Regions from separate parts of the Homo sapiens genome. Here all the other regions are linked to region 1. Evidence: fine-mapped expression QTL. A gene starts in region 1. Each other region holds a variant in brackets. All regions are shown on one strand. Distances are from middle to middle.

Evidence for each region. PIP is the estimated chance that this variant, and not a neighbour inherited with it, causes the effect.
Region 2: its variant is fine-mapped to the expression of SIRPA in whole blood (TOPMed, PIP above 0.99).
Region 3: its variant is fine-mapped to the expression of SIRPA in whole blood (TOPMed, PIP above 0.99).

The regions. Positions count from the first base shown.
Region 1 is chr20:1,892,142-1,901,186 of GRCh38, forward strand. It overlaps SIRPA (signal regulatory protein alpha), which reads left to right and starts at 3,266. Exons shown (of 8, transcript NM_001040023.2): 1 at 3,266-3,385. The coding sequence starts at 3,307. LOC102724545 (a long non-coding RNA gene) reads right to left here and starts at 2,109. Exons shown (of 4, transcript NR_186374.1): 1 at 1,978-2,109. RefSeq lists silencers at 2,230-2,489, 2,500-2,619 and enhancers at 3,911-4,426, 8,052-8,621, 8,431-8,480.
Region 2 is chr20:1,833,124-1,843,507 of GRCh38, forward strand. LOC105372501 (a long non-coding RNA gene) reads left to right here. Exons shown (of 4, transcript XR_001754475.2): 4 at 1,737-3,418. Among named protein-coding and RNA genes, the nearest start is that of SIRPA, 57 kb to the right of the region's middle. The variant G/A (reference allele first, on the strand shown) is at 5,375.
Region 3 is chr20:1,805,394-1,815,777 of GRCh38, forward strand. No RefSeq gene overlaps it. Among named protein-coding and RNA genes, the nearest start is that of SIRPA, 85 kb to the right of the region's middle. The variant T/C (reference allele first, on the strand shown) is at 5,952.

The DNA of each region.
Region 1 (9,045 bases):
CTTGAGGTTGGCCAAGGATGATTTTTATGTGGACAGAGAACAAGGGTCAGGGCCCCCTCCAGGGGGAGAGGTGAGGGAAGCCCTGCTGAGCGCCTTTGCCAAAGGTGCTATATATAAATAGCAGGTGGTTCAATTATTATCCTTCCCTAATCTCCAGTTTCCTAATCCCCCAGCAGGTTTGTGAGTGTGTATGTGTCTTGAGGAACAGTGAACAGCAGAGCCTTCTGGAAGTCCAGGGCAGGAGGCTGCCTCTTCTCTGACTTCATCAGCAGCCCCCATCTCCACTCCCACCCCAGATGGAGTCTGGTGACAGATTTTCCCAGGAGCCTCCCTGGTTACCTTCATGGTCTAGACCCGATGTGGCCTGAAGAGTTGGAGACCTTCCCTGCACCCACCTCAGATACCAGGATAACCCCAGAACAATCTTTCTCATTGGTGCCCAATTCCACGCTCCTCTCTCTCCAGTCCACCCTCCGCTTGCAGACTGGCCTTTTAGACACATAAATCAGACATGGCCCTCCCGTGCTGAAAACCCTCTAGGGGTCTCCCAACTGCAGAATAAACGCAGGCTCTTTACCCAGGTCTTGGAGACCATCCCACCCTCCCCAGTCCTGCATACTGCGCTTTCTCTCCTCCGGCCTAGCCACCTGGGGCCTTCCCCTCCTTGTGCTGGGCCCTCTTCCTGGAACACCTTTCTCCCCAAATCTTCGCCTTGCTGACCCTACTTGTGATTCAGCAACCCATGTCTCAGGGAGGTCTTACTGGCCCCCTTATCTAAATACGCTCACCCCTCTCCTTCTCTAAGTTCAATCTTCCGTTCTTCATTAATTATTTCTACTTGTCCACTTACCTGTCTCCCCTAGTAGAATATAAATTCCTCATGGACAGGGACCTCGTGCTCTCCCACACCCAGAGAAATGAAAATTCCCTTGCACTTCAAATGCTGCCCAGAACCCTGTGGGTTCTCAAGGACTGTTGTCAAACACTTCACTTATTTATCAAATGCTTATGTTGCACTTGGTATGTGCTAGGCTCTTTTTAACATGTCTTACAAATATTAACTCATCAAATCCTCACAATTGAGACTCACGCTGGCCTCGTCTCAGATGAAGAAGCTGAGGCACAGAAGAGGTAAGGCACTTTCCAGTCCACCCAGCTCATAACAGTAGCCGGGGGATTTGAACCCACGGAGTTCAGCCCATGTTCTCAAGTGTGGCACCTTCCCTGCCCCCCTGCACAACAGCAGGGCCATGCCTTCACCAGGAGGCTCGGGGCAGGAGGGGAGGCAGTGGTGTTACTTTGCACAGGTCTTTAACCTGGGAATCAGGAATTCAAATCTTGTTTCTACCCCAAGCTTTGCTGTGTGGCCTTAAGCAAACCTATTCCCTCTCCGGGCCTCAACTTTCTGTCCATTTACAGGGTTGGGCCTTCTCTCACCTTGTGTCATTCCTGTCCTCTTAACCGCCACTGTGTGAACCAAAATTCTCTCCCATTAGCAGCGGGGTCTTGAACTTGTGTTCCTCCCACAGTGCGGAGCCTTCTGCCAGGTGACCACGACACTGGCACTCCCCATCACTGACCTGGCTACTACAGGAACGGCGTTCCCTCCGGGAAAACCGGGGTTCTGTCCTCTCCAACTCCAGGCCTCTGGCCCCGGCTCCCCTTCCCCTCATCTTCCTCAGGGCTTGTCCTTCTCCCGGAACCCAGGCCTTCAGGGCCCCGCTCTCCCACACACGCCCCGGCCTGGGCCTCCCACCCGCCCAGTCCGCCCTCCACCACCGAGACACCTGGCCAGGGGGCCTCCACCTCCCTGGGAAGGCCCCGACCCTTCCCCTCTGGTTGCGCGCCACAGCCCCCTTCTCGCTCCCTCTCCTCCCCGCGCCTCTTTTCCAGGCGGCACCGAAGTCCTTCCTACACACACGCTATTTTTGTACCATCATCTCTTCTTCCTCTCCCCTTCCCCCTGCGTTCACTTACTTCCTTCTTTTCCTTCACCTCGGCCCGGCTCTGAAAGGATCGGGCCCCTCCGGCCCGCACCCACCCCCAAGAGGGGCCTTCAGCTTTGGGGCTCAGAGGCACGACCTCCTGGGGAGGGTTAAAAGGCAGACGCCCCCCCGCCCCCCGCGCCCCCGCGCCCCGACTCCTTCGCCGCCTCCAGCCTCTCGCCAGTGGGAAGCGGGGAGCAGCCGCGCGGCCGGAGTCCGGAGGCGAGGGGAGGTCGGCCGCAACTTCCCCGGTCCACCTTAAGAGGACGATGTAGCCAGCTCGCAGCGCTGACCTTAGAAAAACAAGTTTGCGCAAAGTGGAGCGGGGACCCGGCCTCTGGGCAGCCCCGGCGGCGCTTCCAGTGCCTTCCAGCCCTCGCGGGCGGCGCAGGTCCGGGCCCGGCAGGGACGGGGAGGGGCAGAGCGGGACCGGTCGGGGCTGGGGACCAGCCGCGCGGGCTTCTGAACGGGCACGCTGTCGGAGCCGGAGGCTCGTCTAGTCCCGAGCCCCAGCGGGCCGCGGCGGCTCGCGGGGCCGCCTTCCCGGGACAGCAGCCGGGGCCCGGGCGCCGGCGCGGGGGAGGACGCTGCCCTCCCCGGCCGGGCGCGCAGCTCGCAGCCCTCGCTCCCTCCCCCGGGGCGCGCAGGCGGGCGCTCGCTCGCAGAGAAGGTGCCGGCGGGGCCGGAGCCCCGAAGCCTCCCCGGGCGGCGGGAAGACGGGAGGAGGGGAAAGGGAAGGAGGGAGGGGGTCGGGCTGCCGGGAGGGCGGGGGCAGCGGCCGGGACTGCGGGCCGGGAGCGAGCCCAGCCGCCCGCGCCGTGTGGAGCCCGGGCGGGGCAGGTGGGCAGCGGCGGGGGCGGCTCCGCGCGGCCGGGCTCGGCCGTGCTGCCCCTCGCCCCTGCTCGCGCGGTCCTCTCTCCCGCGCGGTCTGTCGGTCTGCGCGCCGCCTCGCTCCTCGCTCCTCGCTCTCCCCCTCTTTCTCCCCCTCTCGCCTCTCCGTGTCTCTGGCTCTCTGCCTGGCTCCCTTGGGTCTGTTTCTCTCTCCTGCCGCCTCTCTCTGGCCGCCCCTGGCTTTATTTCTCGCGCGCTTGGGGTCTCTCCCAGTCTCCGTCTCTCCATTTCTCCTGGGGGGCGGGGAGGGGGGGTCTCCAAAAACCGCGGCGGCGGCGGCGGCCGCTCCAGGCGCCCGTTCCGGAGTCGGGGGGAGGCCCAGCCGGGAGGGGGGAAGGGGGGGAGCCTTAGTCATTTCCCCGCTCCAGCCTGCTCCCGCCCGAGCGCGCACTCACGGCCGCTCTCCCTCCTCGCTCCGCAGCCGCGGCCCATGGAGCCCGCCGGCCCGGCCCCCGGCCGCCTCGGGCCGCTGCTCTGCCTGCTGCTCGCCGCGTCCTGCGCCTGGTCAGGTAAGCACCCCCCCGCTCCCCACCGCTGCACTCCCCAAACTGCGGGCTCAGGCCTCTCAGACTGGCACTGGGACCCCTTCGGCTAATGCCGAGCAGTAATAGGGGGAGAGACGCCTGTAACCAGGGTTATAGATGCAGAAACTGAGGCCCAGAGAGGGCCAGCGACATGCCCAAGGTCACACAGCCAAGGGTAGAACCCAAGTCTCTTCTATGAGAGTTTGTCTCTGTGGACTCTGACTCTGTGCACTGTGCTGGGCACTGAGACAAAAGAGCCGAGTTGCTTCACTCAGCCCCTGCCCGGTCCAATGGGGAAGGCTGACTGACAGTGGCTTTCAGAGCAGGGCCGTCCGGCTTCCCCAGAATCTGTCCCCATGGACATACGACTTTCCACATGTTTGACTTCAGGGTGTGAGGGGAGGAGGTGAGGGCAGAGGTCCTCCCGATGCTGCCTGGAATGGAACAGAGACAAGCTGTTGCAATTAGGGAAGAGTGAGCCCTCCCTCTGGTGCGCAGAGTAAACCGGTGTTAGTGTGTGCCTGGGAGAGAGGGAGCCGGGAGGCCGCGGTAACCCCAGAGCGAGCTGCTGCGAGCAACAGATCCTTATGTAAAAACACGGTGGATTGTCCCTGTGGTTGCCAAAGCCTCTCCCTGGTGGTCTTGCTCCTTGAGGCGCTCCCAGCTCCCCCTTCCTCCTGCCTTCCCCGAGCTTCCAGGCAGCTCCCTGCAGTTCAGGTGCTCCGCGGGGATGTTACCTGTGGCTCTGACCATGTCTTTCTGTTGGCCTACATCAAACACCTGGCTGTCGCCGGCAGGCGGGCTCTGAAGGCTACTGTGCATGTTCACCAAAGGGTGAGGTCACCATTCAGGAGTCTTGCTTCTTAAATGGGTTTTGCAAAACCATGGGTCTCCTGGGAGGGCACCGGGTGGGGGGCGGGGGGAGCAGAGAAATGGCATTAAGGGAGTTGGGAGGGAGAGAAAAATGGGGATCTTGTTTTTTGTCGTCTTGAAACTGTGTTGTAGGCAGTGGGGTCTCTCTGTACCTCCCACCCTTGAGGAGGGAGGTAAAGATGAGCTCAGTGTCCAACACCCCCTTTTGCGTTTGACTAGAGATGGTAACCATCTGATAGCAGGGAGAAAGGGAGAACTAGCAAAGAGTGGGTGGAAGGAGAAGTATGGGGGGTAGACAGCTGCTTCTCTCTGCCCTGCAGTTTCCCCTGAAACCCAGGAATTCACATAGGCATCCCCCCACCCCACCCCACCCTCCACCCCCAGTTCTTTTCAGTTATAGTTGCGTCCTTGCTGGGCTGAAGGGAGCACTGATACAGTTCACGTCTCTCCAGTGAGTGGCATCTCCTATCTGCTCCTTCCTGCCTGAGCTGGCCATTTGTACCCTGCAAAAGTCCGAGTTCCTGCCCTGCCATCCTTCCTGGCCTGGAAATGCACAAGTGTCACTCACAAGTGCTTAATTTTCCTGAAGCAGGGAATTGGGCCCGAGTTAATTTCTAAATGTCTATTCCAGACCCTTCTCCGACCAGGAGGCTGTGGTTCAGTCCCTGGCAAACGAGCAGTGACGCTGATTAGCAAGTGCTCCGATGGGCAGCCTGCCTTTCCTGGGGCACCGGCTGGGAACACCAACACCTTTCTTGTGAGCACATCTCCCCCTTTTGCCTATAAAAACAGTCTATAAGATGGTAAAGATTGGGCCATAAAACTTCCGTTCCAATCCATTCAGCATCAATAGCCTGAAAAAGTGGGAGCAGCAGAGGGGCCAAGATTAGCTTTGAAATAAATAAATCTTAGGAGGTAAGAATGAATTTCTTGGTCGAGGGTGGTGGGGAAGGGATGAGGTGCGACCATCATAGCTCAAGTCTCCCATTATCCTTCAGTATCTGTTCTTCGGGGTCCTGGTCACACCATGGGCCTGGGCAGGGAAGTCACCTGGTTTGGCTGAAGGATGGGGCCTCAGGCCCCTCCCCCTATTGCTCCAGACATGGAATTTACAACAAAGAAGTAGAGAGACAGGATATGAGGGTAGGAAGGTACAAGGAGGCAGTTGTCCAATTTTCTAAGAAAATGGATTTGTTCGAGTGAGAAACTAAAATGTCAGGTTTAGGAAGGCGGCTTTGGATTGAATGACTACTAGTGTCTCAGGCAGAACTGTCAGCCTGGGAGGTGTCACATGATTCCTGTGTCTTCACATGATCACTGTTTTGGGGGGGTGGGGCCAATCATGTGAATTATCCTGGGTGGGGGAGGCAAGAGAAGAAGTTTCTAAAGATTGCTTTTAGCACAAATGCTGCCAAAGGGAAATTCTAAAAAGATCCCAGTGAAGTCACCAACCTATGTTTTTGGACCCAATGTGAGGCCTGTTTCCTAAAACAACTGCACTGAGGGAGATTCTGAGGCTGGGAGAAGGGCAAGGGACTGAGGCCTGGGGACACCTGGCACCTGATTTTGTGTCAGCAGGGCCTGACGCTGAACCCGCAGGATGCCTGCTTGGCCCCAGGTAGGCCTTGAGACCTCTGAGTCACCCCCCAGGCCGACCTCAGATAAACTCCCATTCATTTCTTCTCTCTGGCCTGGAGGAGGCCAAGCCAAGTTGCAGTTCAGGCTCTGGGGAGCAGCGGGGCCCCCCAGTGAACCTCTCACCGTTTGGTAGAGGGTGGCACTCTGGGGGCTCCTCTGTACTTTCCTAAATGGTAAAGTTAATCTCACTTCCTCTTTCGTAAGAAGAGAAAACGGGGCGGGAGTGCTTTGGCTCAACACATCAGGCTGTTGGAAGTTCCTTTAAAGCCATAGTTTTCTCTGAGTACTTTCTGGCCTTTACCAACCCCTCGGAAACTCACGGTAATTCACGTCTGTACTTGCAGTCATGCAGCACCTATGCAGTGCTGGTGTGAACCATGTGTTGAGAGAAGGGAGGAAAACCAACATTCATTAGATAGTTAATGGCGTTCCAGGCCGGATGCTGCTCCTGCGTCGTCTCACCCGCAAGACATGGATTGGCTCTTCTCCCCATTCTGCAGATGCAGAAAATCGAGTCCCAAACTGGGGAACTAACTTATAAGTGATAGAGAGGAGCCAGGATTTTGGATGCTGGCCTTCCTGCTGGGTGGCTTCTAGGGAAGAAGCTCAATGACTTAATCAGGATGATTTAGTCCAAGCTGGAGAGGGAGTGAGAGAGGCCCCTTTCTGGCCTTGGGTGGAGGACTGTAGAAGAGTTCTTTCTCTGGGCAGAAGGTTTTGATGAAGTCACAGGCATTTCTCTGAAAGCCTGCTGAGGGTGGAAATACTGACAGCCCCTTGGTCCTCACCAGTAACAACACATGAGAGGTGATGTGGCTCCTGTGAGAGCCCCCCATCTGGGCTGCTGAGCTCTGGAGCCCCCAGAGCTGGAATATTCCTCCCTGCATCTTCCTGGTGCCCTTTGCGACAGATGGAGAGGGGGTGTGCGAGAGGAAGGGAGTCTAAAAGTGTTGTACGGATCCCACACGCGCTCGCTTGCTGCTTCCAATGGCTCCGTGCGACAGGTTATTTTCTTATTTGTAGTCTTGGACTGACGGAAGGTTTCCCCCCTCTCTCTCTCTTTTTAAATGTGCTCAGATTTCTGGCCTGTCAACACAACTCAGATCATGTCACTCCCCAGCTCAAAACTGTTGAGTGGGTCCAAGTTTTCTTTAAAAAAAAAAAACAAAAAAACACAAAGCTGCCGTGAGGCCTGGGCTTCCTCCCTGCCAGGCCTGATTTCCAGCCACATGTTTTCCAACAAGCTGACCTGTTGAGATGCTGCAGGATAACCAGGCTTCCTCCCTGCAGACCAGAGCTTTGCTGGCTACTCAGCCACACGAGCACCCCAAAGACCCTGAGAAGCCCTGCAATGTAGAATCCCGAGCTGGGTCACATTTACTCCAGTGTTCCCTGAACTTATGAACGAGAGGCATTTGATTTGTAGTATGCCCGTTAGCATGTGGCCTCTCTCCGTTTGGTAAACGGTTTTCTACAGATCCATGCCCTCAGCTGAACTCTCAGCTCTGTGCCTTGGCCCGTGCTGTTCCTGCCATCAGAAATGCCCTCCCTGTACCTCCTTGTCTTCCTGTGTCTGAATCCTACTCATCCTCCGAGGTTCAATTTAATGTGCCTCCTGGGGAGAGGTCAGAGGAGCCTCTCCACGCAGACACACACCCTGGCCTAGCGCTAAGATGGTGCTAAGACCCCTGGGTGTTGATCTGAGCCCTGCTACTGACTTGGACAATTTGCAGGAATCTGTGTCTCATTTTGCTCATCTGTAAAAGAGGAATGGTATTAACCACTCTATTGCAAGGATTAAGTTAATTAATGCGTGTATAATGCTGGAAGCCATGCCTTGTATGTAGTAAGCACTCAATACATATTAACCAGTGTTGTAATTAGCATGGCTTTATTCTGGTTTGATTCCTCTTTTTTAACAATTGGGACGGATTTTCATAAAACATCTAACACAGTTGCTTACACATAGGGGGTACTTAAAAAACAGCAAAGGCTGTTCAGTGAACAAATGTCCTTCAGCTTGATATTTTCCTTGTAGCTTTTTTTTTTTCTTTTTTTTTTTTTTGAGATGGAGTTTCACTCTTGTTGCCCAGGCTGGAGTGCAATGGCGTGATCTCGGCTCAACGCAACCTCCGCCTCCTGGGTTCAAGCGATTCTCCTGCCTCAGCCTCCCGAGTAGCTGGGATTACAGGGATGCGCCACCATGCCTGGCTGATTTTGTATTTTTAGTAGAGACAAGGTTTCTCCGTGTTGGTCAGGCTGGTCTCGAACTCCTGACCCCAGGTGATCCACCTCCCAAAGTGCTGGGATTACAGGCTGAGCCACCGCACCACCCAGCTGTCCTTGTAGCTTTTATGCTGTTGGGGGATGGACAAGTTGAGTAGAAACCCAGGCTAGAGTGATTTAATTGCCTGTTACTAGGGACTGAGTGCTGTGGGCACAGCCTGCCTCTAGGTGTCTCTATCTGGATCCACAGGTCTGCAGTTGTGGATTCCCGGACCTGCAAAGCAGTAGGGGGCCTGAGAGAGCCCTCTGTGCTTTCATCCAGTGCCTTATGGTGCGGCCAGAAGAACAGAGAGAAAAAAACTGGCCGGGCCCACGCGGGAGATCCATGGCAAGGCCCGGCTGGAACGCCAAGCCTCCTGTGGTCCAGGCCAAGGCTTTTAAAAACTGGGCTGTGCTGGAACTTTCCACTGTTTCAGCCAGAAATCTGACAGGATCCCGAATTCCCCGGGAAAACACTAAAGTAATACTAATAGGAACCATCTGGGTTCTCTGCTTCCTGGGCTCAGCACTTGGTGTGTGTGACCCTGGTGGTACTCACAGCCACCTGGCGATGCACGTCGTTATCTTCGGACCCGTTGGATCTGTGAGGAAACTGAGGCTCTGAATGGTGAAGCAGCTTGCCCAAGGCCACACCGTAAGCGCCAGATGTGGATAACCACTGTCGGCCTAATCACAGAGCCTATGTGGTTAACTGTTGTGCCATTCCTTAGCCGTCACTGAGGCTTGCTTGACAGGTAGGGAAACTGAGGCCCAGTTGTGCTGGCACCCTGCTCCCTTAGTGCTCCTCTCATTTTTGTTTTTGTTTTTTCTTCCTTTCTTTCTTTCTTTTTTTTTTTTTTTTTTTTTTT
Region 2 (10,384 bases), 58 kb before region 1:
AGTGTTGGCACATGCTTGCCACTGGCCCAGGCATGTGAGGAGGGCTCTGACCCTGAACTTGCCCTGAGTCCATTCACATCCAGATGTCCCATCTCTGGGGCTGTGCATAGGGCATCCCCTGCAACAGCCTGGTCCGAAAGTGACCCATGTGCAGGTGCAAGCTACAAGGGGACTCAGAAGGCTCCCACTTCAGCCACCACCTCCCACTTCACAGATAGGAACACTGAGGCTCTTGGAGGGCAACAGTCATCCAATATCATGTGGCAAGTTGCCCAGGTTTCTGTCCCCAGCCCAGGGGTAATTCCAGTAAGCCAACTGGTCAGGCACCCAGGTTCAAATGTGGGCTTTGCACTGCTTGCTGTGTGACCTTGGGCAAGTGACACCGCCTCTCTGTGCTTCATCTAAAAATAGGGATAAAAATACTTACCTCGAGTGAGGATTAGAACATAAGGCAGGCATCCGGAATCTCTTTTTGACTGCTGTATGCATGGTCAAAAGAGCTTAAACAGCTTAAAAAGCCTGACCCCCAGCAAAAGTGTGACCAATGATGGTTAACATGAGTGAGTGCTGGTTCTGCCTGGCACATGTGAAGATTCATGTAGTCCTTAGCAATCCCACAAAGTAGGTATTTTTGAATCCCATCTTCCACATAAAGAAATTTAAATGAGGCACCCAAGGCCACAGAGCTGGAAACTGGTAGCATCAGAAGCTGAATTCAGGCAGGTGAGCACTGTGCTAAGTGCTCTACACAAATGCATTTGTTCACTCATTCATTCATGTAACAAGCAGTAAGCACCTATTATACACCAGGTACTGCTTTAGATACCATGCATACAGCAGTCAAAAAGAGAGTCAGGATGCCTGCCTTATGTTCTGTTTCTCATTTGTGGTAGGTATTTGTGTTATCTATTTTTAGATGAAGCACAGAGAGGCAGTGTCACTTGCCCAAGGTCACACAGCAAGGAGTGCAAAGCCCACATTTGAACCTGGGCCTAGCTGATGCCTCGTTTTCTGTCCTGAGGGACCCTTTTCCAGCAATATCCCCAGAAGGGACTGAACCAGAGGTGTATGCACTGATGTCTGTCCAGGGTTCAGGCCCATTCAGAGCCCCGGAACACTCCATCCCACGCAGCCTTAGCCTCATTTCCCAAGTGGCAAGTGGCACTCAGGCCCCACCCTCTCCAAGCTGTCATGAGGATTCCTTCCTTCTTTCCTAACACTAATTGAGATGCCTCCTGACATTGTACAGATACCATAGTTTAGGAAACCCCTCCTCCTTTCCTAGAGGTTAGTTTTGCTTCAGTCTGCAGAAGAGAAAACCCAGGGGTCTCAGAGGTGACATGATTTAACTAAGGCAGTGACTCAATCAGAATTCAAGCCCAGACATGTGTGCCTCAAAGCAGCAGCAGTCAGGGTCTCAGCAGGAGCAGATGGCACCCTCCAGGTAGGTCATTTGATTTGATTTTAATAAAGGGATCACTTAGGAGGGATGAGAAAAGAGTATAGCAAACCACAAAGGATAAGGTAGTACCTCAGAGCTGGTGCAAGTCGAACTATTATGGGCTCAAAGGGTGAGAGGAGGGAGAAGGGAGAAGTTGGCTGTCACCAGGAGATAAGAGAGAGCCCCCAATAGGAGATGTGGCCTTCAGTTGAAGGACACAGGCAGCTTGAGGGGATCTTGAAGGCAGAGAACTGGGGAATAAATACACCAGCCTCACTATCCTCTCTCTTCCCAGATCCCACCAGTGCTCCCAATGGGCCAGACCCAATGGAAAGCCAGACAACAAGGGTTCCCTTGATTGACATAATCCCTGCAGGCCAACCACTCAGGACAGAGAGCAAGGAGAAGGATGGGAAGAGGATCTGAGAGGAGAACCACAAGATCTCCAGCCAAAGTCAAGTACACTTTCCTTATCTACTGCCTTGTGCTTGCAGAGGCATAGTAGGTTCTGTTGTCTATGCCAGCAAGGTCACTATGGAAGGTACAGTTGTCACTACGGCTAGTTCATGCTGCAGGAACAAACAACTCCCAATTCTCAAGACTTCAAACAGGTTGGCAAACTATAGCCTGCAAGCTGGTCACTCATCTTGTAAACAAAGTTTCATCGAGACACAGCCACAACCACCCATTTACGTACTGTCTGTGCCTGCTTTCTTGCTCCAACAGCAGAGTTGAGTAGCTGTGACAAGCCTAAAATATTCATTCTCTGGCCAAGAAAATTTGCCAACCCTTGGCTTAAAAAAACACAGGTTTGCTTCTTACTCCGGTTCCCTGTCCATCTCCAGTTGGCAAGGCTTCTCCTCCATAACGTCCACAGTCAGGGGCCCAGGCTGGCGAGCCCTCCCTTGAAGAACCCGCCAGTCTCCCTGGCAGGGGATGCAGACAAAAAATTGCTCACCAGCTCTTGAGGCTCCCATCAGAAAGAGACACACCTCACTTCTGCTCACAGATCTTGGCAGAAATCAAGTGCCAAGGACGTGCCTAACTTCAAGAAGGCTGGAAAGTACAGCCTCTCCACGCACCCCACATGAGGAGACCCAGAAATGGACCCAGATGGTGGATAGCACTCCTGACAACTGCGGCATGCGAACACGGCAAACGGTTGTAAAACAAAGGAATGAGGACACCGCTGGGTCTTGCAGCAAGCTTCTCCAGAATCCCTCCTGTGCACAGGGCTCAGGGAAGCCAGACAGGATTACACCCGGGGGTGGAGAAGCTGGAGAGAATGCATGTCACATGCACGCTCGGCCACTACCCTTTTTTATGGCCTCCATGGAAACAGAAGCAGAAACCAGAGGGTCCCTAGGAGCTCCAGCCACACCCACTTCTCATTCTCTGGGGACAAATGTCTGAGGGCTCCCTTCTCTCTCCATCAGGGTCCAGAAGCTGGCCAAGGACTGAAGAGGCTTTGGCTCAATTTATGACTTTATTACCAGTCGCCTTCCAGCTGTGAGCCTCCACTTCCCCAGCTGCAACAATCTGTGGGTCTCAAGGTGAGGTCCTGTGACTGGCAGCATCGCCATCACCTGGAAACTGATTAGAAATCCACATTCTCAAGCCCCACCCAGCTCTATTGAATGGGAAGCTCTGGTGGAGGATCCCAGAAATCTGGACTTCAACAAGTGTCTCCGGTGATTCTGATGCTTGAGGAATATAAGGCACAAACGAACTGAGATGTGCAAAGCCCGGGCCCGCACTGCTTTTCCAGCAGTCCTCCCCACCTGCATAAATGACAGTTTCATTCTGGTTTAAGCCAAAAACCTGGAGCCATCCTAGAGGGTTCTCAGACCCTAATCCTGTGGCTTAGCCTTTAGAATATATTCAGATCTTGGCCTCCCTCTCCACCTCCTTCACTCTGCGTGGCCCTAGCCTCTGCCATCTGACACCCACATACTACCTTGCCTTTCTAACCCCCGCTCCCTCTTCCTTTGAGCCCTGTAGTACATCCTCACTCCAGCAGCCAGAAGATGCTCTTAAAAACTCAATCAGATGATTCCACGCTTCTGCTCAGAACCTCCAATGGCTTCCATCTCACTCAGAAGAAAACCTGACAGGGCCGCCCTTGGTCTGATTCCCACTGACCTCTCCACCTCCCCAACGCCCTGCCGCTTGCTTGCCGTCTCCAGCTGCACTGACCTGTTCTCTGTTCCTCCAACATGCCAGGCACGCTCCCGCCTCAGGGCCTTTGCTCCCGCTATTTCCTCTGCCAGAAACCCCTCTCTAGTGATCCCCACACGGCCCAAGCCCTCACCTCCTTCAGATCACCGCTCAAATGTCACCTCCTCAGAGAAGCCTTCTCCGACCCCGCCATCCTGCGCTGCCCCCTCCTCTGGCTTTGTTTTTCTCCATAGCCCTCACCACCACCTGACACACATCTTTGTTGTTTCTCTGTTTATAGTCTGCCTCTCCCCACGAGGGTATGAGGGCCACGAAGCCAGGCACTGCCTGCTTTGTTCACTGCTGTATGCCTCCCAATGCCTGAATATTGCCTGGCATGGAGAAAGCCCTGGGTAAATATTTATTGAGTGAACAGACGGATAGGTAGGTAGACAGATGGATGGACGGAGAAATGCTCATTCCTTGGGCCTTGCTGTGGTCAGCACGAGGCAGCCCCCATGGGCACGCCCCAAGAGTTACACCACAGAAAGACCCCAGGATTGAGGGCTGGGTCCTTGTATGCCGCTCTGGGATCAGCAGGTCTGGGTTCAAGTCTCTTGAATTGACCTGAAGGAAATCACATAACCTCTCTGATCCTCAATTTTCTCATCTCTAAAATGGGGATGATGCTGATAATGTGTATCATGTGCCTTAACCTTATAGGACTGCAGCGAGGACTAAACAAGGTGCACGTGAAGGGTTGCAGCGTGATACCCAATACCTGCTAAATCCACAACACACAGGAATTACTGCTGCCCCTATTGCTTTGCTTTCTTCTCAATTTTGCCAGTGGCCTGGGGTACTTGGGCAGCCATAGGGCTTATTGGGAGTATAACTGGCTCCAAAGAAAGGGACTTGGGTTTGAATCCTTGCAGCTACTATCTCGCTATATGACTTTGTGCAAGTCACTAGCCCTCTCTGGGCCTCAATTTCTCCCTCTGAGCAATGGGAAAAGGGTATTGAAGGAGGTTGTTTTGTGATCCCTGCAACTTGCCTCCCCAAGTCCTTCTGGAGGACCAAGCCCACGCTCGCCAAGCCCTCTCCTCTTCGTGGCTGCAGTGGGGAGGCCCTGAAGCTGAGGAGGCTGGCTGGGGCTCATGCTGACTCCTCCCCTAGCCTCACTGATTCTGCAGGGAGGGAAGAGAGAGGCAGTACTGGGTTGTGGCTGAAAGCACCCCAACTCCATGTCTAAACCGGAGTTCTCCCTCTGGTTTCTGTGATTTGAGTGAGTCACTTAACCTCTTGTGCCTTAGCATCCTCATCTGTGAAATGGGAATAATTATCACCTATGAGGATAAAATAAACTGCTGCGTGTAAAGTGTTTAGACAAGTGCTTGGCACACAATTATCACTATTATTATAATAGCTGCTATTATTTCTAACAACCACAGCTGGTCTCTGGACCAGGCACCATCAGAAGTTTTTATAAACTTTGATTTAATTTTCACAAATATTCTACGCCATTATTGTCTCCATTTGAGAGGTGAACAAGTTTGGCTCAGAGACTGAAGCCATTTGCCCAGGGTCCCACAGCTTGCAGGTGGAGCTGGGTTTGAACCCAGTGCACTCTCAAGCCTGGTTCTTTCCACTCACCATGCTGCTTTCCCTTCGCTCTCCGTTTTACTGATGGGGAGACAGAGGGTTACAGAGCTCACTCCCAGGCCTCAGTCCTGCTGGGCCCTTTCACCCAAAGCATTCCTGGATCCATGCAACATC[G/A]TACCTAGAGGCAGAACTAGAGGCCATGATGACTCCTATTCACAAAGAGGCTGCTCAGTGTGAGGGGCAGAGCAGAACCTGGCCTGGCTGCCAACAGGTGCATGGCCAGGTCTCCAAGGGAAGTGGCCCCAGCAGCTCCCAGGCAGCCAGCCCCCCCTCAGCTGGGCAGCCCCTGATCCTCCTCCCATCCCCCTGCTTTATGACCTGTTTTATGAGCGGGAGGCCTGGCAGCTTCCACGTTGCCATGGGAACCAGCCCAGTGCGGGCTCCTGGCAGCTCAATCAGGGATTGGCAATTTTAAGTCAGGAGCCAATCCTGGGGCTAGCGAGGGTTTCCATGGGTTGGGGTCTGTGGGCCCCAGGGATGCACAGTGCCTGCCTGACTGTCTGCCTCTCTCCTCTGCTCCAGCTCCCCAGGTGCCCAAAGAACTCAGGGACCCCACAGCTGGAAGATGACAGGCTGTTAGAGCCCTGGAGGAGCCTGGGGCAGCAGGGAATGACATGGACCACCGAGTGGGGGCTGGGAGAGCTGACAGAGCTGGACCGTGGACACACATGCTTAGGGGCACACAGAGACACTAGGACAGCTGACATGAAGGGACTCACAATGATATACAGATACAGACTCACACAGAGAAACAGAGATATGCACATGGCAGCCACATGTGCATAGCAAAGAAAGGTACTTGCAAACACACAGACATACACAAATCCATAGGAATACCTGGGTGCCCAGAGACTCACAGACACACAGACATCCAAAGACACACACAGAGGACACTTGGACACCCAGAGATACATCCAGACATACACATAGACACACAAAGGACGTACAGACACACACTGCTCACTGCCTGTGTGGTCCAGGCAGCTTGCCCAAACTCTCTGAGACCCAATCGCATCATCTTTCAAAAGGGCATCACAATCCTAGCTTGTGAGGACAGGGAGGAATAACGAGGAAAATGGCTGCGTGTGCTCAGACACCTTCATTCATCCAGCCAGACAATATTATTGAGCATCTACTATGTGCCATGTGCCTCCTCCGAGCTGAGAACAGGAAGCTAACAAGGACCTACCCTCAGGAAGCTCACAGTCTCCTTCGGAAGACAATAAATACAGGAACAAAGCAACAGCTAAGAGTGACTCGGAAGACAATAAATATAGGAACAAAGCAACAGCTAAGAGTGACTCGGAAGACAGTAAATACAGGAACAAAGCAACAGCGAAGAGTGACTCGGAAGACAGTAAATACAGGAACAAAGCAACAGCGAAGAGTGACTCGGAAGACAATAAATATAGGAACAAAGCAACAGCTAAGAGTGACTCGGAAGATAGTAAATACAGGAACAAAGCAACAGCGAAGAGTGACTCGGAAGACAATAAATATAGGAACAAAGCAACAGCTAAGAGTGACTCGGAAGACAATAAATATAGGAACAAAGCAACAGCTAAGAGTGACTCGGAAGACAATAAATATAGGAACAAAGCAACAGCTAAGAGTGACTCGGAAGACAATAAATACAGGAACAAAGCAACAGCTAAGAGTGACTCGGAAGACAATAAATATAGGAACAAAGCAACAGCTAAGAGTGACTCGGTGGAGGAACCGGTTAGGGTAGTCAGGGAACACTTCTCTGAGGAGGTGACATTCGCCTGAGACAGAAGGAATGTGATGGAACTGACCAGAAAGGGTAGAGAGAAGAGTGTCCCAGTTAGCGGGAACAGGAGGTGCAAAGGCGCTGAGGTCAGAGCAGGGCTCCATGTGGCCAAGAAGCCCCAAGGAGATCAGTGTGGCTGCAATGGAGGGAGGAGACAGGGGATGAGTTTGAGAGTAACTGGAGGCCGGAGCAGGCAGGGACTTGAAGACTGAGTGATGTACTGTGGGTTTCATTCTCCATAAAATGGGACCCACAAAAGTGTTTCTATCAGGGATCATCTGGTCAAAATCGCATTTTAAGTAGCTCACTTTGGCTGCTGGCAGGAAACTGCCTGGATGGGGCAAAACAGGACATCGGGAGCCTAGCATTGGGGGCTGTCACAGCATCCAGGGGAAGGGTGGCTGCAGGCTGGACCAGGGTGATGGCAATGGCCATGGATGGTCCTTGAAATTGTGCATTCAGCACATCTTTACTGAGCTCCTATTCTGTGCCAGCCATTGGGGATGCAGAAGCCAACAAGAGAGAAATTCCTGCCTTCACAGGGCATGCAATCTAGAGGAAAGAGAATGGTAACTGAATATAATATATGCCAGTGGTAAGTGACGACAAGTGCTGTGGAAAAAATCAAAGCAGGGAAGGGTGTGGAGATCTGCCAGGGAGGAGTGGGGCAATTTGTAGTTTTAAACAGGAGAGTCGGGAAAAGTCTCATTGAAAAGGCCACATTTTAGTGAAGATGTAAAGGAGGCATGAGATAGAATCTGGGACAGAGAGTTCCAGGCAGAGGAAACAGTGAGTGCAAAGGCCCGGAGGCAGGCCCACTCCTGGTTTGTTTGAAGAAAGCAAGGAGGTCCCTGTGGCTGAGCTGACTAAGCTGGTGGGGGCGGGACAGATCATGCAGGGAAGGAAGGGAAGGAGGAAGGGGCTGAATGGGCAGAAGAGACTGGGACCTGGATGCCTATAGGAGGGAGGGAAACCAGCGAGACAGGGCCTGGCCCCTTCTCCATCCTGCTCCCCCGACCCAAGGAAGCAGCATCTCCCATTCCTCCTTTCATCCCACAAAGCTTCATCAGCCAAAAAGTGAAAGTTTAAAAAGGGAGGAACTGATCCCAGGAGAGGCAGGGCCCTGAGATTTGCCTGAACCCAGGTCAGACCCCAGCCCGGGTGGGGTGTGACTTCCTGTGGCTCTGATGGAATTCTCACTGTCCTCCTCAGGATGCATTCCTGGGCCTGAGGCACAGAAAGAGGACACACAGCCAATAGCAGCCAGTTTCAGGGCTCCTAAGCCTGCTGGGAGACACCCCCAGCCTCAGGCAGTGCTGTCGGGGTGGGCTACCTAAGCTGCAGGTGAGAAGAATGGTGGCTAATTAGGGTGCTGCCTCCTTCTCACTCTCCAGGTCCCAGGGATACCCTGAGTTGGATTTCAGGCTCATTAATGTCTTGGCAGAGAGGCTCTGGCTGTGAGCTCTCTCCAGCTGCCCAGCCTTGCCTGGCAGGAGTAGGGAATAGAAGGGAGACTCACAGGGGAGTCATCTACCCCCAGAGTCAGTCCCAAGGCAGGCCCAGGGTTGAAGGACGTCCTAGAGGACGTCCTAGAGCCCAGTGACATTGGCTGAGACACTCTCCCTCCCTGAGCCCCTTTGTCCCTGTCTCTCCAAGGGGATCATAGGCCTTTTCCCACCTGACTTCCAGAGCTGGGATGAACCCAAATAAAGGATGAAAGTGAAAGTGCCCTGAATCATTAAAGAGACAGGCAGAACTCCCTGTGCCACCCTGGAGGGATCTGCAGGATGGGTTGTTACGTAAGACAAGGCGCCTTGCAACAACTGCTGCCTGGCTGGCCTCCCAGCTTCTGCCCTTCCGTGGTGGCTGTTCTCCCCTGGTAGCCCCTGGATTCTGTTACATAAAATACCAGGTCAAAGAATTCCCATGGGACCCAGCAATTCCACATCTGGCTCTATACCCAAAAGAACTGAAAGCAGCGTCTCAAATAAGTATCCGCACACCCATCTTCATAGCAGCATCATTCACAATAGCCGAAAGGAGGACGCAACCCAAGTGTCCACTGGCAGATGAATAAATGGATAAGCAAAGTGTGGTATATACATATAATGGAATATTATTCAGCCTTAAAAAGGAAAGAAATTTTGTCACACGGTACAGCATGGATGAAACTCAAGGATATTATGCTAAGGGAAATAAGCCAGACACAAAAAGATAAATACTGCATGATTCCACTTATATGATTCATCTTGAGTAGTCAAATCCATAGCAACGCAAAGTAGAATGGGGCTGGGGGACGGGGGAATTCGTGTTGAATGGGTGCAGTTTCGGTTTTGAAAGATAAAACAGCTCTGCATGCGGATGATGGTAACGATTGCACAGTGATATGAATGTGCTTAATGCCACTGAGCTGTACACTTAAAAATAGTTAAAATGGCCAGTTTTATGCTGTGTATATTCTACCACAATAAAAAAAATTGCACCAAAAAACCCCAATGAAACCAATCCTAGCTCAGTCCTCTCCTCTGCTCCATCTTCCTGAGGCTCTGGTTGTATGCCCCAACCTGCATTCCCCATGCCACCCCATATGTTCTGCACTGCGCCTCCCTGACCCATCTCCTGCCCCTCCCCTCGCTCACTTTGCTCCAGCCCTGCTGGCTTGTTCACTCGTTCTCCAACCCACTAATTTCATGCCATGCTTGGGGCCTTGGCACCCAATGTCCTCTCTACCAAGAATCTGTCCTGGATATCTGCAGGGCTTGTTCCTCCCCATCCTCCAAGCTCAAGTCAAATGTCTCCTCAGAGGAGACATTTCCTTGACCCCCTGGACTGAAAGCACCCCCCCACAACCCCACTCCTATCCTCCTCTATCCCTTTACCTAAATGTATGTCTTTCATAACATGTATTAATATCACTACCTGGAAGAATACTTTAGCTTTGTCTGCTGGCTACTCTGTTAGAGTGTCAGCTCTGGAGGGTAGGAATCTCACTTTTTCATGCCTCACAACAATGCCTGGCACATAGTAGGTGCTCAATGAATAGTTATCAAATAAATGGAGAATGATCTTATTGATGTATGATGCATACCTATGACACACATGTTATATCTGTGCAGATGTAAATATATGGGAAAGGCCTGGAAACATGTCCACCAACATACAGTGGTGAACCGGGGAGGAGGGTGGGCAAAGAGGATGGGGGAGTGGCTGTCAAGGGGCCCTTTCAGGGTTCACTGAGTTCACTCAGCTGCTGCATGCAACTCTTACCATGCAGATCATAGGTATGTGAGTTTTAAAAAAGAGCTCTGAGGTGATGCTATGTCCCATGTAGCGTCTATGAGTGATTCTCCCCA
Region 3 (10,384 bases), 86 kb before region 1:
TCTGGAGGCAGAACACTAAGCCCAGGGTGTAGCCAAGGGGCACTGCAGAGGATAGGGTGTGGATGGAGATTGGACCTGCAGCCTGGGATGTCTACACACATGCAGGTGAGGTGTGCACGGTACAGGATGGAGCTGGGGATGAGAAGGGAAGGTGGCAGTTTATAGGCTGGGAAATGAGCGACCAGGGAATGGGGCTGGCTCTCCCCAGCACCGCCACATTTCAGTGCGAGTATCTAAGAAATCCAAATCAATCCTGGCCTTTCAGGCTGCTGAGAAGTTATACTTACTGAGGAGAAGGATAGAACATTTAAGAGAAGGTATTGGTCTGATTTATAATTTTTAAATATTTAGATTTAAGGGTGAGTGGACACCAGCCTCCACCAATATCAAGAGTGTGTTTGGCCTAGACCCTAGGAGATATTCAATATTTATCAAATAGATGGATGAATCTCATTTAATTTAATCCTCACACAGACTCAACGGAGGGAAATCACATCGTCTGTGCTTTATTGATGAGGGAACTAAGGCTTGGAGAGATTTAATGACTGGCCTATTTGTCAAGTTAGAAGTTTGTCTAGCAGAGCTGAGAGCCTCAAGCCCTAACGTGTCTGATTCCAAAATCCATTGCAATTGGTTCATGACAAGTTCACTCCCATTATGACCACATTAAATATATTATAACTGTTTGAGCATGTCACTCGCTGATCTTTGGGAACATAAGCACTGTTTATATTACATGAAAAAGGCCTTCTCTTCTTCATTCTTACTCTACCCTCTCAGGCACCTTTGGGAAGTAGTAAGACAGGAGCTAATGCTCCATTTAACAAATGGAAAACTGAGGACTGAGCAATAGCCCAAGGTGTCAACGAGGCTTAAACAAATAGGGATTTTTTTTTTTTTTTTCATGTAGCAAGAAATCCGGAGGTAGCTGGGCAAGGGCTGGTATAATTTTTGCATTATTTTCAGCAAACAACTTCTGCCTCTTGGTCTCTTCTGGCTATTTATTGCTACAGCATAACAAACTGCCCCCAAACAACAACCATTGTATCGTCTACAGTTTTGTGAGTCAGAAATTTGCGCAGGGCTCAGCTGGGTGATCCTTCAGTGATCCATGGAGCGCCGACTAGAGTCACTCAGTGATCTTCAGCTGCTGATTGTGCTATGCTGGAGGATCGAGATGGTTTCACTCAGGTTCCTGGTGCTTTCGTGGGGATGGCTGGAACACTGAGCTCAGCTGGGTCCGTCTGCCTCTCCATGGAATCCCAGGGCTTCTCCAGGTGGGTGTCTCCAGCAGAGTAGTTTGACCTTTTTCATGGCAGCTCATGGCTCCCAGAGGCCATAGCAGAAACTGCCAGTCCTCCTAGAGGTTAGGCCTGGAGTGGGCGTGACATCATTTCCACCATACTCTATTGGTCAAAGAAGTCACAGGTCAGCCCAGATTTAAGTACAGGGGAAATTGACTCCTCTCAAAGGGAGGAGGATCAAAGAATCCACAGCCATCTTTAAATTATCACATGGTCCGAGCTGCTTGAGATGTAGTCATCATGTCTCAAATTCCAGAAAGTGTGGAGGACTGGTGGAGGAAGGTGTTTACCTTCCCTTTTAAGACATTTTCTGGAAGTCACACACAACATTTTCCATTGGCCAGAACTTACATGGGCATACCTAGGATATGGAAGGGAAACTGGAAACTGTAATCTTTATTGCAGGAGGCAAGCCATGTATTCTGATGAAAATTAGGGATTTTGTTGACTAAGGAAGAAGGGGAGCATGGGTATTGAGGACCAACTAAAATCTATTCCATGGTTAGGTGTTTTGTTGTTGTTGTTGTTGTTTTTGCTACCAACAGCCAAACACTGTTCCTAGCAGAGATGTTTCTATACCAGTCTTCTCCTTCCTAACACATCTTCCACTCTGTCATCAAAATAATCTTTCCTTTTTTATTATTTGTTATGTTCCTATACCGTATATCTTTTAATCATTCCTATGCCAACAGCAAGTGTCCGAATTATTTTGTGTTGTGTGAAACAGTAATGGGGTTTGCCACACACCAGGCACTGTGCCAAGCACTAAATGAACATATCTCACTTGATCTCCGCAGTATCCCACTGAGTGAGGATCACAGACGAGGAAGCAGAAACCCAGAGAGGTTAAATGACTTGCTCCGGGCCACACAGAGAGTAGGTGCAAGGCTGAGATTCAAACCCTCGACTGTCAGATTCCAGAGCTGTGCTGTGAAACCCACACATGTGAAGCTCAGGGACTGTTTATGGATGACAGCCCCGGAGCATGGGCAAGACTTGTGCCTGGTGTGTGAAGGTTACAGGTGACAAATGTGAGCCAAGAGCCTGCAGATGCTCCCTTCCCGCTGTGATCCTTCAGTAGGGAAGACTGCATCAAGCCCCAGGGCCATGCTGGCATATTTCATGAAATTAAACTGGCACCAGGAATTCATATCATTCTATTTCCTTTACACCCTGACTGAACCCCAAGTCTGGAGGAGACTTTGCAGAACTGGCTACATTGCTAAGCAGGGCACAGGCCCAGTTAAATGAGGCACCTTTCTGCTCCAGCTCCAAGCTTCTCTGTTCTGACCCCGGTCTTTCTTGCCTTTGCCTCACCCCTGTTCGAGGACATGCAGTGACTCCCTGTTCCCCTCAAGTTCAGTTTTGCCTTTCTCCAAATGCTCCTTGTAAGGACTGGGGAGAATACGGTTCCATCCTTTCGGTGAATTTCAGTTTCTGCATCTGTCAAATGGGAGGAAATAATCCCTGCTTTGCTAAGTAATTGAAATGTTGAGGACCACACAGGACAAGGAATAGGAATGGCCTTTGCAGGGCAGAGCAGGCGAGGGGCACAATCCCACTGGATCTGAGTAGTATTTAGAAGACTAGGCATTATCTCCTCGGAAGGCAGAAAGATCTGGGGTAGGGAGTGGGGTTGTGGAGGATCAGGGAGTGCCCTGCACCTTCTTGTGGGGGCTCCTGCCCACAGTCTTGCAGAGGAAGTGGCCCAGGGTGAGCATTTACATATTCTATATGCCCCGCTGGGGGGACACAGTGAGACCACCGGTTCTGAAACCAGATAAACCTGTGTTTGAGTGTCCCAGCTTCATCTCGTACTAGCTGAAGGACCTTTGGATAAGTCATATCACTTCTGCCTCCAGTTTCACAGCTATAAGTTGGGGCTGAAAAAAGAACCTGTCTCATTGGGATTTTATAAGGAATCAAATGAGAATGTGCGCCTTTAAAGCACCTCATTTAGCACAGAAGAACTGTTCAACCAATAGTCATGGTAAGAGTGACTGGTGTTTTTTGAGCCCTGATTAAATTATATGCCATAAGAGTCTTCTTGATTAGTTTATATACTCCTCACCACAATGCTAAGATGTAGTTAACATTATTATTTCCCACTTGTAGATGTAGAGATGGGGATGCAGTTAGGCTGAACGAGCTGCCCAAGGTCATAGTAAGTGGTAGAAGCTGGGCTTGAACCGGAACCCAGTCTGTCTGATGCAGTCTTCCTTAATCAATAGCCATGCTGTTACTATTACTGTTGACATTACTATTATTGACCTTGAATTCTTTACCCAATATCTCCACACTTCCACAACACCTGGTGGGGGCAGGAAGAGCCACCTGACCCAAAGACTGCCAAAATATAGGCTGAGCAGCCTGTGATACAGCCTGGGACAGAAGCTCCACCCAGCAGGGCTGAGCCCAATTAACTAAACTCATCAGCAGTGATGGTGGCTGCCAGTTTGAATTGGACCACAAAGAGTTGGGATGATGCCTACAAGCTGAAAGACCCTAAAAGATGACATAATTCAAACAAATGTGAAGGCACAGGGGCAATGAGTAAGCCAAACTTCCAAGACAGACAAGGGGGAGGAGAAATTTGACAAACGTCTGCTCCTGAGATGACTATGAACTGACTCAGTCCCAGAGCACTGGGTCCTGAATGATGTTCCAGTGGCTAAGTTGTATTCTGTGATGTGTGGTCAAAATTCCTGCCTTCCAGTCCCTGCATGTAGCTTTACAACAACCCCCATGGCTCAAGTTAGGAGAGAGGCTCTGCTCTTTTCAACCAAAATTAGGCTAGCTCAGCTCTCCCGTTTATCTTTAGGGTAAATGCTAAGATTTGGAAGTGGTGAATGGAGAGGGAGGTAGGATCAGGACATCCCTCCATCAATCCCAGGTGACGAGGCCCAGAAGACATGGCCTGGCCCAGTTCCTGTTATATCAGAACCTTAGTCCATGTCTCACCATCTACAATCATATCCTAAGTGATCTCACTCACCATCTGGGGTGACTCCGGGCCAGGCGTCTCCCCTGCACTCCAGCCTCATGCCCAGCTACTAACTCCACAGCTCCGTCCGTGTTACACAGGCATGTCAAATCTCACCTGTCCAAAATGGAACTCCTGATTGTGCCTCCAAAACCCACCCCTTCTGCAGGATTTTCATATCAGGAAATGCCAACTCTATAATTCGAGCTGCTTAGGTCAAATACCTTGGAGTCAGCCCTGGCTGTCCTGAGTCATATTCCAACATTCTTGCAGTCCACAAATTCTATTGGCTCTTCCTTCTAAACGTATCCGTGCCCTCCATGATCACCCTAGTCTGACCCACTATCGTCTGTCACCTGGGGTGACACAACAGCCTCCTCTTGCCTCTGGCCTGCCTTCTACAACTTGTTCTGAACTCAGCAGCCAGAGATGTCCTGTTAAAACCTAGGCTGGAGCTTGTAGTCCTCTTGCTCAAAACCCACCCATCACTGCCCTTCTCACTCAGAGGAAAAACAAAGGCCTCCTAAGTCACACAGTCTGACCTCCTCAGTTTCCCCTACAGACCTGCCTCCCTGACCTCACCTCCCAGAGCTCTCCCCAGCCCTTCCTCTATTCCAGCCACTCAAGGTGATCACCACTCCTGGAAGGAGAACTCCCACCCATGGGCCTTTGCATCTGCTGTGCCCTCTGCCTGGGGTGCCCCTCCAGCACGGCTCCCTATCTCACTTGTGTGGGTCTGCAGAGATGCCTTCCCTGGGTACCTCATTAAAAATTACCACCCACTCCAGCAGTCCCTCCCCCGTCTCCTTCCCTGCTTTAACTTTCTCTGTAGCATTTAACACCATCTATTGACACGCGGTAGATTTTACTTACTGTTTCGTGTCATCTCCCACACTGGGATGTTAGCTACGTCTAGGGAAGGACCTTCTTCCATCAGGTGTATCCCCCTTGCCTAGAACACAGCGTCTGATGCATAGTAGGTGCTCAGCAAATCCTTGTCAAATGAACAAAGAAGCACACATAAGAGGACTTCCTGGAGGCACCCCTACCCAGTTCTCACGCCCCCAGCAGCCACCCTCTGGGTGTTCCAGGCCCTAGGCTAGTCCCCTCACTTCTTTGATCCTATTCAGGGGAAATCGGCCTCAGGCCCTGTCCGAAAACAGGAGAACTAAGGAGAAGCTAGTCATGGAGGAATTAGTCCAAATAGGTGGGGATTTCTTTTTAATTAGAACTATTTTTTTTTTTCCCTTCACACAAAAGGACTTGTGTCCCAGTAGCTGGCTCTCCTGTCAAAGCTTGTCCCGGGCTGAGAGCTGGAGCTCTGTGTTCCCACCAAGGATCTACTGTCAGAATCACTGGAGAGCAGCGTGGGCTTTACAGAAGGAAGGTTCTGGGGCAGCAGGGGCACGTGGCCTCCCTGGGACAGGCACACACCTGGAAACCCCACAAATGGGAAGGACTCCATGTGGGTGACAGGTGAGGCTGGTAACAAGCGTGTAGGGTCACTGTACTGTTCTCTCCACTTCCTGTAGTTTGAGAATTTTCTTTAGAGAGAGAAAAAAAAAAAAGAGTGTTTTTCCCCTGAAGTTCTCTTTTCCCGACACATGCCCAGAGGATTTCCTGTAGCCCTCCCTCCCCACCATACCCCACCCACAACTTCTCTT[T/C]TCTCCTCCCCTCTGATTCGAGGAGAGAGCCATTCTGCTCTGCTTACTAGCTGCCTGTCTGCATCTGGGGACACTTACAAACCTTTGATGCCTGTTTACTCCCCTACTCGCCAAGATTTGGGTCCAGATGGCCTGGTGAGGTGGTGCTGGGCACTGATGGTTGCTAAATGCTCCCTGGGTGATCCTGGCACTTTCTAGAGTTGAGCAACTACCTTGTTACCCCAGACCCAGCCCTGACTCTGCCACACTCAGGGATCTCCTGTTAATAGGGTCCAGCCTCCTTAGAAGACAGTTTAACAACATATTTTGTTACCTGAGCCCATCTTTGGGGTCCACCATAGCTGCCTAAGTGACTTGAGGAGATATTTCTTCCAAACCCAGACAAAGAGCCTCATTCACCACCAGCACTCCTGGTGGATGACATCCTCCCTGTTACCTTATGCGACACGGGTTCCCTGTGACCATTTGGAAAGTGCAGAGAAGCACACAGGAGCTGGCCACAGCCCACTTCAAGCCCAGGAATTTGTGAACAGAAAGGAGCCATTGTCTCCAGTCACTTGAAGGGAACAGCTCAAAAACACATTCAAAGGGCCCTGATGATAATGAATATGCTAATATGATTTCCACTGGGCGCCTGTGCTACCTCCAAAAAACCCTTTCTGACCTTCCTCATGGATTCAAAGCTTTCATTGAAGTCGACAGGGGATTTTGGTTAAAATAACATGAAAGTTTTCATTTAAATGGACAAAGCTGGGAGTTGTGAATTAAGCATGAGTTTCACATTGGTCCTGACACCCCTGACCTTGATGGGGAAATGCATAGATTGTGACTGGACCTTCTGGACCTTCTAGCTATTGCCTTTGGGTGGGCAGAGCTAGCAAGCATTAAGGGTCCCTTTTGCATGACAAGTGAACTCTGGAGACCTAGGTTTAAATCCCAGCTCTGACACTTACTAGCTGGGTGACCTTGAGAAAGGCAAATCATTTCTCTGATTGAGCCTCAATTTCCCCATCTGTAAAATGGTTTGGATAATACTTCCCTTGCAGCATTGCTTCCAAGAGTGAATAAGAAGTCTGTATGTGGGAGGGGTTGGGGAAGTGGAAAACATCTTGGAGCTCCCCACCGTCTCACCCAGTCAGAGACCCAGCAAGGGTGTGAACACCTCCAGCCTCCCATATCCCAGACCTTCTTTCCTTCATTCAGCGTATATTTATAAAGCATTTCCTGGGTGCCAGGTACTGTTTTGGGGCTGGGGATTCAGCTGTGAACAGAACAGATGAACTCTGCCCTCAGTGGAGCTGCCATTGTAGTGGGAAGGACAGACATTAAACACATGAATAGATAAATAATAAGTAAGTGGGCTGGGCGTGGTGGCTCACGCCTGTAATCCTGACACTTCGGGAGGCCGAGGGGTGGGGGGGGGGGTGTTGGATCACCTGAGGTCAGGAGTTCGAGACCAGCCTAACCAACATGGTGAAACCCCATCTCTACTAAAAATACAAGGGCGTGGTGGCACATGCCTGTAATCCCAGCTACTCGGGAGGCTGAGGCATGATAATCACTTGAACCTGGGAGGCGGAGGTTGCAGTGAGCCGAGATCATGCCACTGCACTCCAGCCTGGGCAACAGAGCAAGACTTCGTCTCAAAAATAATAATAATAATATGTAAGTGGTAATAAGTTCTTTGGAGAAGAAAAACAAAGTCCTTAATGAAAAGAGCAGAGCTTTAGAATTAGACAGAGCTGAATTCAAATCTCAGCTTGCTCTTTGCTGGCTGTGTAATGCCTGGGAAAGAGATTTTATCTCCCTAACACTCTTCTGCACATTTTTTAATGAGACCCACTGATGAATCACCCACCCATTGAACAAATATTTATAGAACTCTGGGCCAGGCACGGTGGCTCATGCCTGTAATCCCAGCACTTCAGGAGGCCGATGCAGGCGGGTCACTGAGGTCAGGAGTTGGATACCAGCCCGGCCAATATGATGAAATCACATCTCTACTAAAAATACCCCCCCAAAAAAGAAAAAAAAATAGCTGGACATGGTGGCGTGCACTTGTAATCCCAGCTATTCCAGAGGCTGTGACAGGAGAATCGCTTGAACCCAGGAGACAGAGGTTATAGTGAGCCAAGATCGTGCCACTGCACTTCAGCCTGGGCAAGTGAGCCAGACTCCATCTCAAAAAAGAAAAAAGAACTCTGTCCTGTGTCAAGCATTGTTTTGAGTGCTGGGGAGGCCACAGTGAATGAAACAAAAATCCTTGCCCTTGGGAGCTTAAAATCTAAAAGGGAGAAATAGACAATTAACAAATATACGTATATCAGGTGATGAAAGAAAAAGCAAGGGAAGGAGGTCAAGAATGTGGAGGACATTATTTCAGGGAGTGGTGGTCAGGGAAGGCCTCTCTGGGGAGCTGACATTTAAGTGGAGCTTTGAAAGATGTAGGGGAGTTAGCCATGTGGGTGTCTGAAGGAAGAACCTTCCCAGTCGGAGGAGACATCAAGGGCAAAGGCCCTGAGGTAGGGCCATGCGTGGCTGTTGGGAGGATTAGGGAATTGGAGGCAATGTCTAAGACACACCCAGCACAGCCCCTGGCTCTGAGTGGGGGTTCAATCAATAGCAGTTATTATTTGTACTCATTTTATGAAAAATGCAAGAGAAGTCATTTTCCATTATTATAAAAGTTCTTGAAGGCTTTGTGGATTGATGACTTTATTCCCTTTTCTTCTTTTGTTTTTCTGAATCAGAACCAGCAAGTCCAACCCCCAAGCCCACCTGCCAGCCCGCCTCTGTGCCCCCAGTCCCAATCCGGCAGGAATGTTTGACATGCAGTGGTGCTGGAGGGAGGGAGTGTGTAATTAATGATGGTTATTAAATAATAATGCCAGCATCTTGAAGTTCTTTCCTCTCCACAGCCTCACAAATTAGACGCCTTCGAAATGTTGTGCCCGTCGCCAAGATGCACCTCCATCTGGGGTGGAAGCAACATCTGCTAAACAGCTGCATCTTGTTTAAGAGCTGGTACTTAATTCAATTATTCAGCTCTGATAGGGGCAGGCAGAGCTGAGCGGAAGGGGCAGGCCCAGTCATGGGCATATGCTGCTCCACGTCTTCCCAAGTTGACCCAAACTCCTCTCCCACAGCGTCCCCACTCGCATCTGTTGATTCAACCAACCTAGACATCTGTACATTTCCAGAACCGGCCATGCTCACTCATGCTGCCTCCTTGCTTTTTACTCAAGCTGTGTGCCCCTGCCAGGAACACTCTTCTGCTGCCTGTCCAACTCCCGTGTCCTTCGAAAGGCCCAACTCAAACATCAGTATCTCCTCCAGGACAGAGCATAGGGAATTACCTCCCATGAGCTCTCTCGGTGCTTCATGCATTCCTTAACTGGAGCATTCATAACATTACATTGCAATTTTGTGTACCCTGCTGTTTTGTAAGCCCCTTAGGCTGGGAACCATGTGTATTTCATTCTTGTTATCTCAGCATTGTACCTGACTCCCCATAGACACACCCAGCACAGCCCCTGGCTCTGAGTGTTTAGTTAATGGATGGATGGATGGGTGGGTGGGTGGATGGATGGATGGATGGATGGGTGGGTGGGTGGATGGGAGGGTGGATGGATGGATGGATGGATGGATGGATGGATGGATGGATGCATGCATGGATGGATGGGTGGGTGGATGAATGGGTGGATGGGTTGGTGGGTGGATGGATGGGTGGGTGGATGGATGGGTGGGTGGATGGATGGGTGGATGGATGAATGGATGGATGAAGAGATAGAAGAATGGAAGAAAGGAGGGAAGAACAAAGCGGTAGACAAACAGATGGACCCACTGCCACCATCTAAATCCAAACAACCATCATTTCTCACTGAAACACTGGGGTCTCTCACTGGTCTTTCAGTTTCTACTCTTGCCCCCAGTAGTCTCTTCTACTCAAAGCACTTAGTAATCTTTTGAATATGGATTTATATCATGTCACTCCCCTGTTAAAAACCTTCCAGTGGCTTCCATATTCCTAACCCTGACCTCCAAACCCCTATAGGAAACAGCCCCTGCTTATCCCTCTGATATCATCTCCTCTCTGTCCTATGCTCTGAATACTTGGGGAACCTGCCAAGCTCTCTCTCACCTCAGGACCTTTGAATCTGCTCTTCCCCTTTGCCTGGGACTCACTTCCCTGGATTTCTGTCAAGCTAGTATCTTCTTAAGTCTTCCAGTCTAGCTCTAATGCCACATCCTCAAAGAGACACTTCTTTACTTTGCCAGTTAAAATAGCCACCATTGTGGTCCTTAAAGGCCAAGGGGCCTGATCCAAATACCAATGCTTTGGCTGCTGAAACCCAACAGGCTTCCCAGAGCATCATCCTCAGCTGGGGTCGTGACGCAGACCTCCCCCAAGTGCCTGCCCTACAAGCCATCCC